Linked DNA regions of Homo sapiens: region 2 is linked to region 1. The links come from fine-mapping of genetic effects on gene expression. Tissue or cell type: testis. Region 1 holds a variant in brackets; the other region holds the start of a gene. All regions are shown on one strand. Distances are from middle to middle.

Region 1 (8,178 bases):
AGCAGCTTCAAACTCCTGGTCTCAAGCAATCCTCCCACTTCAGTTACCAAGTAGCTGGGACTACAAGCAGGTGCCAGCACACCTGGCTAAATTTTTTTTTTTTGTTTTGGTAGAGATGGGGTCTCACTATGTTGCCCAGGCTGATCTCAAACTCCTGGGTTCAAGCAATACTCCCGCCTCAGCACCCCCCCAGCACTGAAATTAAAGCTGTGAGCCACCACACACGGCCAAGGGAGCCATTTTACACAGCAAAATCACTAACAAAAAGCAAAAGAAAGCCCAGGTGTGGTGGCTCACGTCTGTAATCCCAGCACTTTGGGAGGCTGAGGCAGGCAGATCACATGAGGACAGGAGTTCAAGACCAGCCTGGACAACATGGCGAAACCCCATCTCTACCAAAAATACAAAAATTAGCCAGGCATGGTAGTGCGCACCTGTAATCCAAGCTACTTGGAAGGCTGAAGCAGGAGAATCGCTTGAACCCAGGAGGCAGAGGTTGCAGTGAGCCAAGATCGCGCAACTGCGCTCCAGCCTGGGCAACAGAGGGAGCAAAACAAACAAACAACAACAAAAAAAAATGGTGGCACTAAATAGACCACAAAAAGGACATTTTACCACGTGGGAGGTGAAACAAGAAGGCAGAGTGTTGCCTTGTCCAACCTCAGCTGGGAGGTGACTTAGATTTTTTGCTGCTCTTCACATCTGTGAGTGACCTTGAAAGTGCCATGAATGTTGACTTTAGGTTTACAAATAAATATCAGCAAGTAGGTGACTTCACAAATACAGAATCAGGAATAATAATGATTAACTGCATGTGATTCTTTTTTTTTTCTTTCTTTTTTTCTTTTTTTGAGACAGAGTCTCACTCCGTCACCCAGGCTAGAGTGTAGGAGCGCAGTGGCACAATTTTGGCTCAACTGCATGTGATTCTGAACCCCATAAAGCCAAGGACAGAAGCTGGCAGGGTGCCTCACAGTGGGACTTAGACAAGGGGTGCTGCTGAAGAGGGAAAGTTGCCCAGAAGCACCCTAGTGCTTCTCAAGCCAGGCCCCAGTGGCATGTGTGCCAGCTGAGGCCCCCAGACACACAGAGCAAGCCCCACTTCTCACCAGGATAGGGGAGCATATGTTTGGCTCCTGAGTGTCAAGAGCACCCACTTCCCTCCCTGGAGCTGGCTAGCCGCGGTGGCTTCCTGTCACTGCCCCCATTCACCTCTATGTCCCTTTATCTGGCAACAGCTCCCAATTTCCTGTGGGGAAACACTCCTTGCCTACTCTTAGTCCCTCTGCATCAGGGGGTTCTGACCCCAACCCTAGCTCTGCAGGTGGGCAAGTCACCCAGACCTGGCCAATCAGAGGCTTTCGTTGCCCCCTAAGTGATTCATTAAGAGATGGACATGTGTCCCAAGCTGAGCCAATGGGAGTCTTCCCTGGGACTTGTTCTGGCACCATCAGACAGAAGGTCTCTTTCTCCAGGACTGCCAGGGGCCAGAACTAGGCTGAGCTGGACCACTAAAGGTCCTCTTTACCTCTTTAATTTTATATATATATATATATATATATATATATATATATATATATATATATATACATACATACACACACACACATACATACATATATACATACACACACACATATATACACATACATATATATATACACATATATATACATATATACACATATATACATATATATACACATATATACATATATATATACACATATATATACATATATATATATATACACATATATATACATATATATATATATTGAGACAGAGTCTCGCTCTGTCACCCAGGCTGGAGTGCAGTGGTGCAATCTTGGCTCACTGCAGCCTCCGCCTCCCGGGTTCAAGCGATTCTCCTGCCTGAGGCTCCCGAATAGCTGGAATTACAGGCATCCACCACCACACCTGGCTAATTTTTGTATTTTTTAGTAGAGATGGGGTTTCACCATGTTGGCCAGGCTGATCTTGAACTCCTGACCTCAGGTGATCCGCCCACCTCAGCCTCCCAAAGTGCTGGGATTACAGGCATGAGCCATTGTGCCTGGCCTTTTTTTTTTTCTTTTTAGACACAGGGTCTCACTCTGTTGCCCAGGCTGGAGTGCAGTAGCACAATCATAGCTCACTGCAGCCTCAAACTCCTGGGCTCAAGTGATCCTCCCACCTCAGCCTCTTGAAGAGCTGAGACTACAGGTGTGCACCACCACACCCAGCTAATTTTTTAATTTTTTTGTAGAGACAGGGTCTTGCTGTGTTGCCCAGGCTGGTCTTGAACTCCTGGCTTCAAGCAGTCCTCCCACCTTGGCCTCCCAAAGCATTGGGATTACAGGCATAAGGCACCTCATCCGGCCATCTTTGCCTCCTTGGGGGTAAAGGCTGATACAGAGGGAAGCTAGGTTGAAAGACAGAGTGGAAGGGTTGGGTTCCCAACAGCATTGACTCTCTTGTCCCATCCATGCCTGAAGTCAGACGTGCTCTTGGACTTTTCCATTACAGGATTAATCAATTTCTTTGGTTGCATACGCCACATTGAGCTGAGTTTCTACCACTGTAAACTGGTACCTGTGGTCTTCCCTCTTGGGTTTTTTGTTCTCGTGGGGAAGAATCCGCCCTCCCTGTCAGCATCATTGGAAATTGCCTCTCTGTCCATTTGAACGGAACATGGAGAACTCTGCCCAGCACTCCCACAGGAATGGAGGCCTTCTGCATGTTAATTACTCACTGTCTCTGGCAAAGTGACAGGAACTGACAGAACCTTCATGGCCCTGCATCAGAGTCACACAGGCTCCACAGTTTCGAAACTCCCCTGTGTGGACGTTCCATATTTTTAAGTTTTTATCCCAGGAGCTTGTACACAGGAAATGGCCACTGAAGGTAAAACAGCAGTTTGAGATTGCATTGGAATGTGCCCTGAAACACAGATGGTGGGGTGCACACATTAGCGCTTTGCTCCTGGAGGACCTGAAGACATACCTAAAGCCGGGGGTATTTTCTCCTGTGAGCTCATGGTCGGGCTGCACATGCTAGCACTTCGCCCCAAGAGGACCTGAAGACATACCTAAGTGGGGGTCAGCATCTCCTGTGAGCTCATGTTCATCATGCCTTTGATCACTGCCTACCATGGTCCAGATGTGAATTGCTCAGACTGTCACGCTGTTCCAGCATTTCTCGACTGCACCAATTTTTAGAAAAATAATAATAGAGACAGTGTTTCGCTATGTTACCCAGGCTGCTCTCAAACTCCTAGGCTCTAGTGGTCCACCTGCCTTGGCCTCCCAAAGTAGTGCTGGGATTACAGGCGTGAGCCACGGCACTGGGCCAACCACACCAAGGTGGACATTTTGAGCTGGGTCACTCAGAGTTGTGGGGGCCGTCCTGTGTTCTGTAGGAGGTGGAGCAGCATCCCTGGCCTCTCCTGGCTAGATGCCAGGAACCCCCACACCCAGTTGTGACAACAAAACATGAGTCCAGACATTGTCAAATGTCCACTGGGGCACAAATTGCCCTCATTTGGGAAGATTCTGCAGTATTCCCTTGGCGCTGGAGGGAAAAGCAGCTGGTGTCAGGAGTGATTGATTGACAGACAGCCTTTGGGGCTTGGTGCTGGGTGGCGCTTACACAGAGGCTCTCTCCTGCTCCCCATCTTTCCCCCAACAATGTCAGGCGTGGTCTCCCCCTGTTCCACCCCTCTCTTACTTACTCCTCTGCTTCTCCACCCCAACTATTCACTCTCCCTTTTTCTCACTCCTATCCTCATTTGTCTTCAGTGCTATTCAAGTATATTTCAGTGTTGTATATTTAATTAATAAAATTGTGGGTTATTTGGCTGGGTGCAGTGGCTCATGCCTATAATCCCAGCACTTTGGGAGGCCTAGGTGGAAGGATTGCTTGAGCCCAGGATTTTGACACCAGCCTGGGCAACATAGCAAGACCCCATCTCTACAAAAAATATAAAAATTAGCTGGGCATGGTGGCACATGCCTGTAGTCCCAGCTACTCTGGAGGCTGAGGCAGGAGAATCACTTGAACCCAGGAGGTGGAGGTTGCAGTGAGCCAAGATTGTGCCATTGCACTCCAGCCTGGGCAACAGTGCAAGACTCTATCTCAGAAAAAAAATGAAGTTATTCATTCCAATTTTTAAGCATCTTCTTTTTCAGAAAAATAATAATAATAAAAAGCCTGTCTGTATTTTGCCACTTTTTGTTTGTAACCCTCAATGTCTTTCTCCTGTGATTCTCACCTCCTCTTGTAAGCAGAGTTTTCTCTGAGTAGCCTGGATCATAAAATCAATCATTTGACCTGAAGAAAAGGTTGAGCAAAACAATTTTCTAGAGCTCAGATCAGAGTTTTGGAACCCATTTTGGTTCTTTGAAAGGCACAAACTGAGCAACGCCAAAGGAGAAGAAATGTCAACTTCGCAG[G/A]GCCATCCGGGATAAACCTCACCAATTCCCAGTGCCTGGTGAGCTAAGAACCATGCTGGCATATCATGGAGGTTTGACTGCAAGCTCTCCCAGCAGCCAGACACTGTCATTGAGGTTTAAACCAGAGGTATACCCAGAGGATTATAAATCATTCTTCTATAAATACACATGCACACGTATGTTTATTGCAGCATTATTCACAATAGCAAAGACTTCGTGTCAACCCAAATGCCCATCAATGATAGACCGGATAAAGAAAATGTGGTACATATACACCATGGAATACTATGCAGCCATGAGAAAGAATGAGATCATGTCCTTTGCAGGGACATCATCCTCAGCAAACTAACACAGGAACAGAAGACCAAACACCACACGTTCTCATTCATAAGTGGGAGTTGAACAGTGAGAACACATAGACACAGGGAGGGGAACATCACACACTGAGGCCTGTCAGGGGGTGGGAGGCAAGTGGAGGGAGAGCATTAGGGCAAATACCTAACACATGCGGGGCTTAAAACCTAGATGACGTGTTGATAGATGCAGCAAACCACCGTGGCACATGTGTACCTATGTAACAAACCTGCACATTCTGCACATGTGTCCTGGAACTTAAAGTAAAAAAAAAGACATAGCAATTTCTAAATAAATAAATACATAAATAAATAAATAAATAAACCAGAGGTATCTCTATGGACTCTCATTTCACATAAATCCCACTTCTCGTAGAAGGCCATTTCACCTGTACAGAAGTTTGGGGAAAATGGCTATGCTGCACGTACAGTTCTGGACAAGATGGAGTCAACTTTAAAAGTAATTTTTTTAAATGGCTGAAATTTTACCAAATTTGGCAAAATATATAAACCTACAGATTCAAGAATCTGAGTAAAACCCAACAGGATAAATCCAAAGAAATCTACACCCAGACACATAATTACACTTCAGAAAACTAAGGACAACAAAAATATCTTCAGAGCAGCAAGAGAGAAATGACTTTTTACCTATAGGAGAAAAACAATATGAATGACAGTGTAAATGAAAACCACAGTGTGGCCAGGCACTGTGGCTCATGCCTGTAATCCCAGCACTTTGGGAGGCCGAGGTGGGTGGATCACAAGGTCAGGAGTTTGAGACCAGCCTGGCCAATGTGGTGAAACCCTGTCTCTACTAAAAATACAAAAATTAGTTGGGCATGGTGGCGGGCGCCTGTAGTCCCACCTACTCGGGAGGCTGAGGCAGGAGAATTGCTTGAACCCGGGAGGCGGAGGTTGCAGCGAGCCGAGATTGCACCCTGCAAATGATATAGCTGATCTTGCTAGAGGATTTAAAAAATTCATAATGTCGGTCGGGCTATATCATTTTCAGTTCTCAGTGCAAAATTAATAAGCAAGATCCCCACTCCTGAAAAAGCTAAGCACAGTATTACCATATGATCCAACAATTCCACTCCTGGGTATACAGAGTAAAGAATTAAAAACAGGCCAGGTGCAGTGGCTCACACCTGTCATCCCAGAACTTTGGGAGGCCAAAGTGAGAGGATCACTTGAGCTCAGAAGTTCAGGACTAGCTTGGGAGACATAATGAGACCCCGTTTCTGCAAAAAAAAAAAAAAAACAAACTTAAAAATTAGCCAGGCATGGTGGTGTGCACCTGTAGTCTCAGCTACTCAGGAAGTTGAGGCAAGAGGATCACTTGAGCCTAGGAATCCGAGGCTCCAGTGAGCTATGATCACGTCACTGCACTCCAGCCTGGGCAACAGAGCAAGACTCTGTCTCGAAATCAAATAAAATAAAAAGAATTGAAAGCAGGAACTCAAAGTTACATGTACATGTGTTCATAGCAGCATTATTCCCAATAACTAAAAGGTAGAAACAGCCTAAGAGGTCATCAACAGATGAACAGATAAACAAAATGTGGTATGTACACCTATAATGCAGTACTATTCAGTCATCAAAAGGAATGAAGTTCTTAATCCCAGCACTGTGGGAGGCCGAGGTGGGTGGATGACAAGGTCAGGAGTTTGAGACCAGCCTGGCCAACATGATGAAACCCCGTCTCTACTAATAATACAGAAATTAGCCAGGTGTGGTGGTGGGCGCCTGTAATCCCAGCTACTCAGGAGGCTGAAGCAGGAGAATCACTTGAACCCAGGAGGCAGAGGTTGCAGTGAGCCAAGATGGCACCACTGCACTCCAGCCTGGGGGACATAGCGAGACTAAGTCTCAAAGGAAAAAAAAGGAATGAAGTTCTGATGTTCTGATGCAGGCTACAACACAGATGAACCTTGAGGACATTATTTTAAGTGAAATAACCTAATCACAAGAGGACAAATAATGTATGACTCTACTTATATGAAATATCTAGAATAGGCAGATTCATAGAGACAGAAAGTAGAATAAACATTACCCAGGGCTGGGGGCATGGGGAATGGGGAGTTATTGCTTAACGGGTAAGAGCTTCTGTCTGAGATGATGAAATCATTTTGGAAATAAATAGTGGTGATGGTTGCACAACACTGTGAATGTAATGAATGGCAGAGAATTGCACACTTAAAAATGGTTAAAATATCATGTTTTATGTTGTGTGCGTGTATATATATATATATATATTTTGAGACAGAGTCTCACTCTGTCACCTAGGCTGGAGTGCAGTGGCACAATCTTGGCTCACTGCAACCTCCACCTCCCGGATTCAAGCTATTCTCCTTCCTCAGCCTCCTGAATAGCTGGGATTACAGGTGCCCGCCACCACGCCCAGCTAAGTTTTGTATTTTTACTAGAGGTGGGGTTTCACTATGTTGACCAGGCTGGTCTCGAACTCCTGACCTCAGGTGATCCGCCCCACTCGGCCTCCCAAAGTGCTGGGATTACAGGCATGAGCCACCGAGCCCAGCCCCAAAATTTTTTTAAATGATAATGTAATATCTCCAAAACGACTGAATTCACTTTATTTATTTATTTTTTTTAGACAGGGTCTTACTTCATTGTCCAGGCTGGGGTGCAGTGGTGCAATCATAGCTCACAGCAGCCTCAAACTCCTAGGCTCAAGCAATCCTCCAGCCTCAGCCTCCTGAGTAGCTGGGACTACAGGTGTGTGACACCACACCCAGCTAATTTTTAAATTTTTTGTAGAGATGGGGTCTTGTGACATTGCCCAGGCTGGTGTTGAACTCCTGGCCTGAAGTGATCCTCCCACTTTGGCCTCCCAAAGCTCTGGGATTATAGCCATGAGCCACACGCCCAGCCAGACCTTCCCATTTTACAGGAGATGCTGGAACTTCACCTTTTGTGGACTTCTCTGCACAATGATTTCCACTAGTGGCTCACATTGAAACAAATGCATCTGAGGCCCAGCCCAGCCCACAGGCCACAGCTGATGGCTCCCTCCTGCCTGCCTGTCCCCAGCCTCCTCAGAGCACCTATGACCAAGCTACAGACGTGTCCACATGGATGCTGGCTTATGTGGAATTCAGGAAGTCATGAATGGGGACGCCCCACCCAAACTCCCTTCTGGCCTCCTGGGGTCCAACTCACTTAGTGATGGTGAGCAGCGTGGCCTGGGATGTAACATCCCAGATCTTGATGCACCTGTCCAATGAGACAGAAGCCACCCTCTGGCTGTCGGGGTCAAAGCAGCATGACGTGATGGACCTTGTGTGATGATCTGCAGAACACGGAGGAAAGGGACTTGAGACCACGCCTTCCACCTGCTGGGCTGGAGGACTCCCACGACTTCCCCAGCCAGT
Region 2 (8,178 bases), 24 kb after region 1:
CTATCGCTATAAAAGGTCTAGAATAGACAAATCTATGGACAGAAAGCAGAATTGCCTGGTGTCGGCAGGATGGGTATTGGGGAACTGGGGAGTACAGTACTCTGAATACCCTAGAAACCACTACAGCTTCTATGGTTAAATTATATGGTACGTGAATTATATCTCAGTAAAACTGGGGGGAAAAAAAGAGGACAGAGCAGGGAAGCCTGAAGATGTCACCCCCCCCACCCACCCACCCCAGCTCGCGCATGGCGACACGTCCCAGGTTGAGCTGCGGAAGTGTGGGGGTGGGGGAAATGTTGGAGGCAAGACCAGGGGTGTGGCCTGGAAGGCAGTGTCAGGGTGCTGGGCTGAGTTGGCAGGAGGACAGGGGTGAGGGGATGCGACGGTTCAGGGCGGCGGTGGCCTTCCGGTTGCAGGTGATGCGGGGCGGGGGGGGGGGTGTCGGGGACGTGCAGGTGGAGATGCAGGGGATGAGATGATACCCCGCCTCTAGGGGGCTCGGGGACACGAGGACACTGGAACGCGGGCTCCGTTGCCAGGGAGCGTGGAGAGCTGGGACCGGGCTTTTCTCCGGGGGAGTTCGCTAACCCCGTCGGGCCAGGCCGGGGCCGCGCGTGCAGGGTTGGCTCCCTACCCCAGGAGCGGCCCCAGTCCCCGGGACATGACCTGCGCGGCCCTCCCGCACCGCCCCCGCCTCTGGCGACCCCAGCCCCTGCCGCCCCTGCAGGGTTTGGGTTATCTCTCTCATTAGGAAAACCCAACTATCATTAAAAATTGAAATTAAATTGGCTGGGTGCAGTGGCTCACGCATGCAATTCCAGTGCTTTGGGAGGCCCAGGAGTGAGGATTGCTTGAGGCCAGGAGTTTAAGACCAGCCTGGGCAACATGGCGAGACTCCCCCTCTCTACAAAAAAAATCAAAATTAAAATTAATAATTTAAAAAATATATAATTTAATTTAAAAAATAGGAAAACAAAAAACCTAGAACTCCATCATGGAAAAACATTAGCAAGAGGGGGGAACCATTCCGCTACCCCCACCACAGGCTTTTCTGGGGCTCTCGTTTCAGGTTTTTTTCTGCACACAGTCCCTTGGGATCCACTAGGTAAAGGGGTCCCAGGGGCTGCAGAGAGAAGTCCCCAACACATGAGTACATTTCAGAGGTGCTGACAAAGCTCATGCAGAGGACAGAGCAAAAACAAAACGGTTCTTCTATGCGTAGCGTTCATTCACATATTCCACAAATAAACCTCAAGAGCCTCCTCCCCCATGGGGCCTGGACCTGATGCTGCAGCTCAGCAGCCACCTAGGAGCAAAGTCCCTAACCTCGAGGGGCCAGTTGCTGGCAGCCAGAGGACACCTTGAGGACGGAACGGGGATGTCAGACCATGGCATGAGGCACGGAGGAGACAGTGGCCCTGGCTACTTTAGACGGGCGGTCAGGGAGGGCCTCCCCAAGAGCGCAATACCGTGGGGGCAGGGAACCGCCAAGATCCCTGAGGCCAGACCTGCTTGTAGGTCAGCAAGACAGGGGGATGGGGGAGGAGAACATGGAGAGGTGCCAGATTTGAAATGGCCTGGAAGGCCACAGGCAGATCGCCAGACTTCATCTTAAACATGCTGGGAAGCCAGGCAGAGGTTTCGAGGAAATTATTAAAAACACACTCTGACATCTGCATGTGAGTGCAATAAATCAAGGCCAAGCATGAAACGCTACTTATTGAGAATGTTCTTTATTGGGTTTTTGTTTTGTTTTGTTTTTGAGATGGAGTGAGATGATCTCAGCTCACTGCAACCTCTGCCTCCCGGGTTCAAATGATCTTGCTGCCTCAGCCTCCTGAGTAGCTGGGATTACAGGCACGCACCACCATGCCTGGCTAATTTTTGCATTTTTAGTAGAGAAAGGGTTTCACCATGTTAGCCAGGCTGGTCTCGAACCCTTGACCTCAAGTGATCTGCTCATCTCGGCTTCCCAAAGTGCTGGGATTACAGACATGAGCCACTGCACCCAGCCAGTTTTTCTTTCTTTCTCCTTCTTTCTTTCTTTTTCTTTTTCTTTCTTTCTTTCTCTCTCTCTCTCTATATTTATTTATTTATTTATTTATTTATTTATTTATTTATTCTGGAGACAGTCTCGCTCTGTTGCCCAGGCTGGAGTGCAGTGGCACAATCATAGCTCACTGCAGCCTTAAACTCCTGGGTTCAAGGGATCCTCTTGCCTCAGCCTTTCAAGTGGCTGGGACCACAGGTGCGCCCCATCACACTGGGCTAAGTTTATTTCTTGTAGAGACGACCTCTCACTATGTTGCCCAGGCTGGTCTCAAACTCCTGGGCTCAAGTGATCCTCCCACCTGGGCCTCCCAAAGGGCTGGGATTACAGGTGTGAGCCACCTTGCCTGGCCCAATTCATTGTTGTTATTATTATTCTGAGTTTCCCGTTTCTTCTGACGCTAACTGTATCTCCTGGACGGGGAGAGCTGAGCCACCGACCCTTGGGCTGCAATTAGGAGCATCACTGTGGGTGGGCCTACCTACGGAGACTCCAAGGTCTAGATGGGGTCACATGGTGGGGCAGAGCCTCCTCCCAGCGAAGAGTCCTGGTTCCCCAGCAGGTGGCAGTGCGGGGAGCCCCCGCCGGCATCCCCAGCACGCCCTGCTCAGGTGGGTCTGACCTTTGCCCACAGATGTACCACAGATGGGGAAATGGGCCTAGGGCCTCGCTGGGGGTCCTGGTGAAGCCAGGTGGGTTTTCCATGGGTCCCCCGACAGCTCGAGCGCCTTCCTCCCGTGTGGGGAACAGGCCAGTGCCCCCTCACCCCAGCGGCGGTTCTGACCTTGGAGAGAGGGTCCTGGTCGCCCCAGATCAATTTCTCCGGCACCTGGTGCTTCTCAGGCAACAGATGCGGTGGTGGTTCCCTGTCCAAGGCCAGGGGGTCGAGGGTGGCCAGCAGGTGCGTGTGCGGGATCGACAGCTTGAAGCGGCCTAAGGCCCTCGCCATGGTCCCCCAGGACAGCTTGCCGGGACAATACTCGCTGGCGGGGGCGGAGGGTGGCGGCAACTTGCATTCCCTGTCATGGGCTGTCGGGGAGCACCGCGGCGGGGAGGCCATCTCGAAGCCCGGTCCGCCGGTGGCCGCCGACAAGCCTGGATGGGAACGGTGGCGCCGCGCGCCCGCGCCCGCGCCCGCACCAAGCCCTTCGGAGGCGCGCGCTACGCTGGGCCCGCGACTTCGCTGCCTCCTCGCCCGCTGGGTGAAAACTAGTGCCACCCCGCGCAGCACAGGTTACCTATAGAAAAATGGGCTTTGCAGCCGGGCGCGGTGGCTCACGCCTGTAATCCCGGCACTTTGGGAGGCCGAGGCGGGCGGATTACCTGAGGTCAGGAGTTGGAGACCAGCCTGGCCAACAGGTTTAGTGAAACCCCATCTTTACTTAAAAAAAATAATAACAAAAATTAGCCAGGCATGGGGGCGTGCGCCTGTAGTTCCAGCTACATGGGAGGCTGAGGCAGGGGAATGGCTTGAACCCAGGAGGTGGAGGTTGCAAAAAAAAGAAAAATGGGCTTTGCATTCTGGGAACCAGGCCGAGCCAGCAAAACCAGCACCCCAGCCTCCAGCCCTCCGCTGTGGTTTCCCTGGCTCCTGTCACAGGGCAATTTCTTCATGTCCTCTGCCTGGGTACAGCTCCTGGCCAACCCACTTCATGACAAAACAGAAAAGGTCAGTAAGTTATGGGGTAGCCCCTGCATGAAATAAGATGCAGTTATTAGGGGTGGGTTTACAACATTTATAATAGATGAGGGAAATATCTGTCACAACCCCAACAACAGTGACAGGGAATAAAATGCTACCACCAGTCAGATAACAGCCCCATAGCTAGAAAAGGACAGGGTGGAATTATTCAAAATATTGAAGAAGGGTGTCATCTTTGGATGATAAAACTAAAAGTGATTTTCTTCCTTCTTTTTTTTTTTTTTTTTTTTTGGTGGAGACAAGAGTCTGTCACCCAGGCTGGATTGCAGTAGCGCAATTTCGGCTCACTGCAACCTCCACCTCCAGGGTTCAAAGGATTCTCGTGCCTCAGCCTCCCACACAGCTGGGATTACAGGTGTATGCTCACCAGACCTGGCTAATTTTTTTGTATTTTTAGTAGAGACAAGGTTTCGCCATGTTGGCCAGGCTGTTTTTGAACTCCTGGCCTCAAGTGATCCGCTGGCCTCGGCCTCCCAAAGTGCTGGGATTACAAGCATGGGCCACCGCACCCGGCCTCTTCCTTCTTTCTGCTTTTAAAATTGTTGTGATCTATGATGCTACTTTCATAATGTAAAATACAAATGCTCAATACTTTATTTTTTGTGGAGACAGGGGTCTCTATGTGGCCCAGGCTGGTCTGGAATTCCTGGGCTCAAGCAATCCTCCCGCCTCGGCCTCCCAAAGCTCTGGGATTACAGGCATTAGCCATCACACCTGGTCTGCACTTTATTTTTCAAAAAGGTCTCCTTGGTACACATGAGGTGGCCTCAGAGCAGGGAGCTGCAGCCGTGTAACCCAGGCTGTGGGTGCACATTCTCCTGCCTGGTTTCCCTGCCTGTCTCAGACACTTTAGTGACATCTACCCTGAGAGGCTGAGGCCCCCTGCCAGGCCCTGGCTCTGCCCTCCCATGGGGCTTCCTGGGCACCAACAGTAACCCAGCCACCCAGAGAGGGAAGAGCTTCACTCCCAAAAAACGGCAGGAGGGGCCGCAACCGCCCCTTCTCACACGCTTGTCCTTCAGTGAGTCCAGGCTGTCTTCATCACAAAACCAGAGAGAAGCCTTCACTTTTAACTTCTTTTTTAACGTCCCAGGAAATTTTTTAAAAATCAAGAAGAAAATAGAAAAATTCCACTTTAATTAAACTGTTCAGTCTGGATTTTTTTCCCCCGATACTAACTGAAATTAAAAATAGAAATCAATTTCTGCGACCTTTCAAGGCAGTCTTTGAAATGTCAAGGTTTTAAAAATTATTTTACAGCAGGAATTTACATATAAATACACTCTGTACAATGCGTTAACTGAACAATCACTGGGCTTCCATCATGGAGGAGAAATGATTCTAGGACGAGCCAGGGCAGCATTCAATTACTGCCTTCTTAGTGGAAGACTTTTCAGCCTGGAAAAGAAAACAGAAAAGAGAGAAATGGAAAGTTAGCTAAAGTGAAAAACCAAACAGCTCCGTGGAGGCTGAGAATGCCAGGCCTCCCCATATCACAGCAGCATGTCTGCACCTACAAAATGCACTCACAATAACCCACAATGAAGTACTGCCTAATCTGTGCTTTTTTTTTTTTTTCCCCCGAGATGGAGTCTCACTTTTGTCGCCCAGGCTGGAGCGCAGTGGTGCGATCTCAGCTCACTGCAACCTCCGCCTCCCAGGTTTAAGCAAGTCTCCTGCCTCAGCCTCCAGAGTAGCTGGGATTACAGGCACATGCCACCATACCCAGCTAATTTTTGTATTTTTAGTACAGATGGGGTTTCACCATGTTGGCCAGGCTTGTTTCGAACTCCTGACTGTGATCTGCCCGCCTCGGCCTCCCAAAGTGCTGGGATTACAGGCATGAGCCACCGTACCCGGCCAATCTGTGTTCTTAAAATGCTTCTTCTATTACCCTGAAAACACACAGAGACTCACTCACCCACACCTCGTATTAAGACCACTTATAAAAGCAACTTTTTTCCCTAGTCTTATTTAGCCTTGAGAATACAAGCAATTTTTAATCTCAGTTTCACTCACCTACCGCATCCGTTGCATGACCCTTGGGAAGGAACTAAAATACATTCACTCCAGGGCCCAAAGCATCCAAGTTGTCTTTTTTTTTTTTTTAATTTTTTTATAGAGACAGGGTCTCCCTATATTACCCGAGCTGGTCTTGAACTCCTGGGCTCAAGCGATCCTCCCATCTTGACCTCCCAAGGTATTGGGATTACAGGCATGAGCCACCATGCCCAGCCCCCAAGTTGTCAGTCTTAAATCTGAATTTCTTTTCTTTTTTTTTTTTTGAGACAGAGTCTCTGTCACCCAGGCTGGAGTACAGTGGCGCGATCTCGGTTCACTGCAACCTCCACCTCCCAGGTTCAAGCGATTCTCCTGCCTCCACCTCCTGAGTAGCTGGGACTACAGGCACGTGCCACCACGCCTGGCTAGTTTTTTTAGTAGAGATGGGGTTTGGGGTTTCATTGTGTTAACCAGGATAGTCTCGATTTCCTGACCTCATGATCCGCCTGCCTCGGCCTCCCAGAGTGCTGGGATTACAGACGTGAGATACCGCACCTGGCCTAAATCTGAATTTCATACATATAGGAATGTTCGTGGCAGTTCTATTTGAAACAGAGCTGGGTCACACTGGCTGAAAATCCCTGCTCCACAGACTCAAAGTAAAAAACCCAGTATCCACACAACAGAAGAGATAAACATACCGTGGTGTGCTCACAAGAAGGAATCTTCCACAGCAATGACTACAAGCCCCTCACTGCTGCCTACCATCATCTGAAGGAATCTCAGAAGCCAGACACTCAAAGAATTCACACAACACCCTTCTTCCCAATAAAGATAAAACTGGCAAGAGCAGGCCTGCGCAGCGGCTCACGCCTGAGGCTGAGGCAGGAGGATCACTTGAGGCCAGGAGTTCGAGACCAGTTTGGGCAACATAGGAGATCCCATCTCTACAAAAAAGATTTTTTTAGGCCGGGTGTGGTGGCTCACGCCTGTAATCCCGGCACTTTGGGAGGCCAAGGCAGGCGGATCACCAGGTCAGGAGATTGAGACCATCCTGGCTAACACGGTGAAACCCCGTCTCTACTAAATATACAAAAAATTAGCTGGACGTGGTGGCGGGTACCTGTAGTCCCAGCTACTCAGGAGGCTGAGGCAGGAGAATGGCGTGAACCCAGGAGGTGGAGCTTGCAGTGAGCCAAGATCGCGCCACTGCACTCCAGCTTGGGTGACAGAGCAAGACTCTGTCTCAAAAAAAATGATTTTTTAAAAAAATTAGCTGGGTGTGGTGGTGCACACTTACAGTCCCAGCTACTCTGAAGGCTGAGGTGGGAGGATCCCTTGAGCCGGAGAGGCAGAGTTTACAGTGAGCTGTGATCAGGCCACTGCACTCCAGCCTGGGTCACAGAGCGAGACTCTGTCTCAAAAAATAAAATAAAATTCATACCCTATAAATATATGCTATATAAAATTATATTACTTATATTTAAAATGTGCACAAAAATCTGTATATAGGCCAGGCATGGTGGTTCACACCTGTAATCCTGGCACTCAGAGGCCAAGGTGGGTGTATCACCTGAGGTCAGGAGTTTGAGACCAGCCTGGCCAACATGACGAAACACTGTCTCTACTAAAAAAATACAAAATACAAAAATTAGCTGGGTGTGGGGGCGGGTGCCTGTAATCCCAGTTGCTTGGGAGGCTGAGGTAGGAGAACTGCTTGAACCCGGGAGGCAGAGGTTGCACTGAGCCAAGATCGCACCACTGCACTCCAGCCTGGGTGACAGAACGAGACTCGTCTAAAAAAGAAACAAACAATGTGTATGTGCATCCATGTACGTGAGTGTGTATGTGTGTGTGTGTGGTTGCACAAAAAAGGTCTTAAAGGTTACATATGAAACTGATGGCAGAAGTTACTGTGGAGAAAGTAGAGGTTTGGAGAACTAGTCAGGGCTCCTTTAAGCATTGGCTGTAAGGTCTGAATTTTCTTTTCTTTTTTTTTTTTTTTTTATTGAGACAAGAGTCTCGCTCTGTCGCCCAGGCTGGAGGGCAGTGGCACAATCTCGGCTCACTGCAAGCTCCGCCTCCCAGGTTGACGCCATTCTCCTGCCTCAGCCTCCCCAGCAGCTGGAACTACAGGCACACGCTCCACGCCCAGCTAATTTTTGTATTTTTAGTAGAGACGGGGTTTCTCTGTGTTAGCCAGGATGGTCTCGAGCTCCTGACCTTGTGATCCACCCGCCTCGGCCTCCCAAAGTGCTGGGATTACAGGCATGAGCCACCGCGCCTGGCCTGAATTTTCATAATGATAATATATTCACATATCACTTACATAATTAGATATTCAAACTTTTTAAAAAGCCTAGTTAATACACACATTTTTTTTTTTCTTTTAGGGAGAGGGTCTTGCTCTATCACCCAGGCT

What was found. PIP is the estimated chance that this variant, and not a neighbour inherited with it, causes the effect.
Region 2: WDR88 starts here. The variant in region 1 is fine-mapped to the expression of WDR88 in testis (GTEx, PIP above 0.99).

What each region holds. Positions count from the first base shown.
Region 1 is chr19:33,151,099-33,159,276 of GRCh38, reverse strand. WDR88 (WD repeat domain 88) reads right to left here. Exons shown (of 11, transcript NM_173479.4): 6 at 7,967-8,096; 7 at 2,735-2,922. Among named protein-coding and RNA genes, the nearest start is that of TRT-AGT1-3, 22 kb to the left of the region's middle. RefSeq lists a cis regulatory region at 7,910 and an enhancer at 7,826-7,995. The variant G/A (reference allele first, on the strand shown) is at 4,434.
Region 2 is chr19:33,127,105-33,135,282 of GRCh38, reverse strand. WDR88 (WD repeat domain 88) reads right to left here and starts at 3,169. Exons shown (of 11, transcript NM_173479.4): 1 at 2,838-3,169. The coding sequence starts at 3,113. GPATCH1 (G-patch domain containing 1) reads right to left here. Exons shown (of 20, transcript NM_018025.3): 20 at 4,741-5,153. The coding sequence ends at 5,123. RefSeq lists enhancers at 276-325, 3,163-3,332, 7,801-7,970 and silencers at 406-525, 6,090-6,234.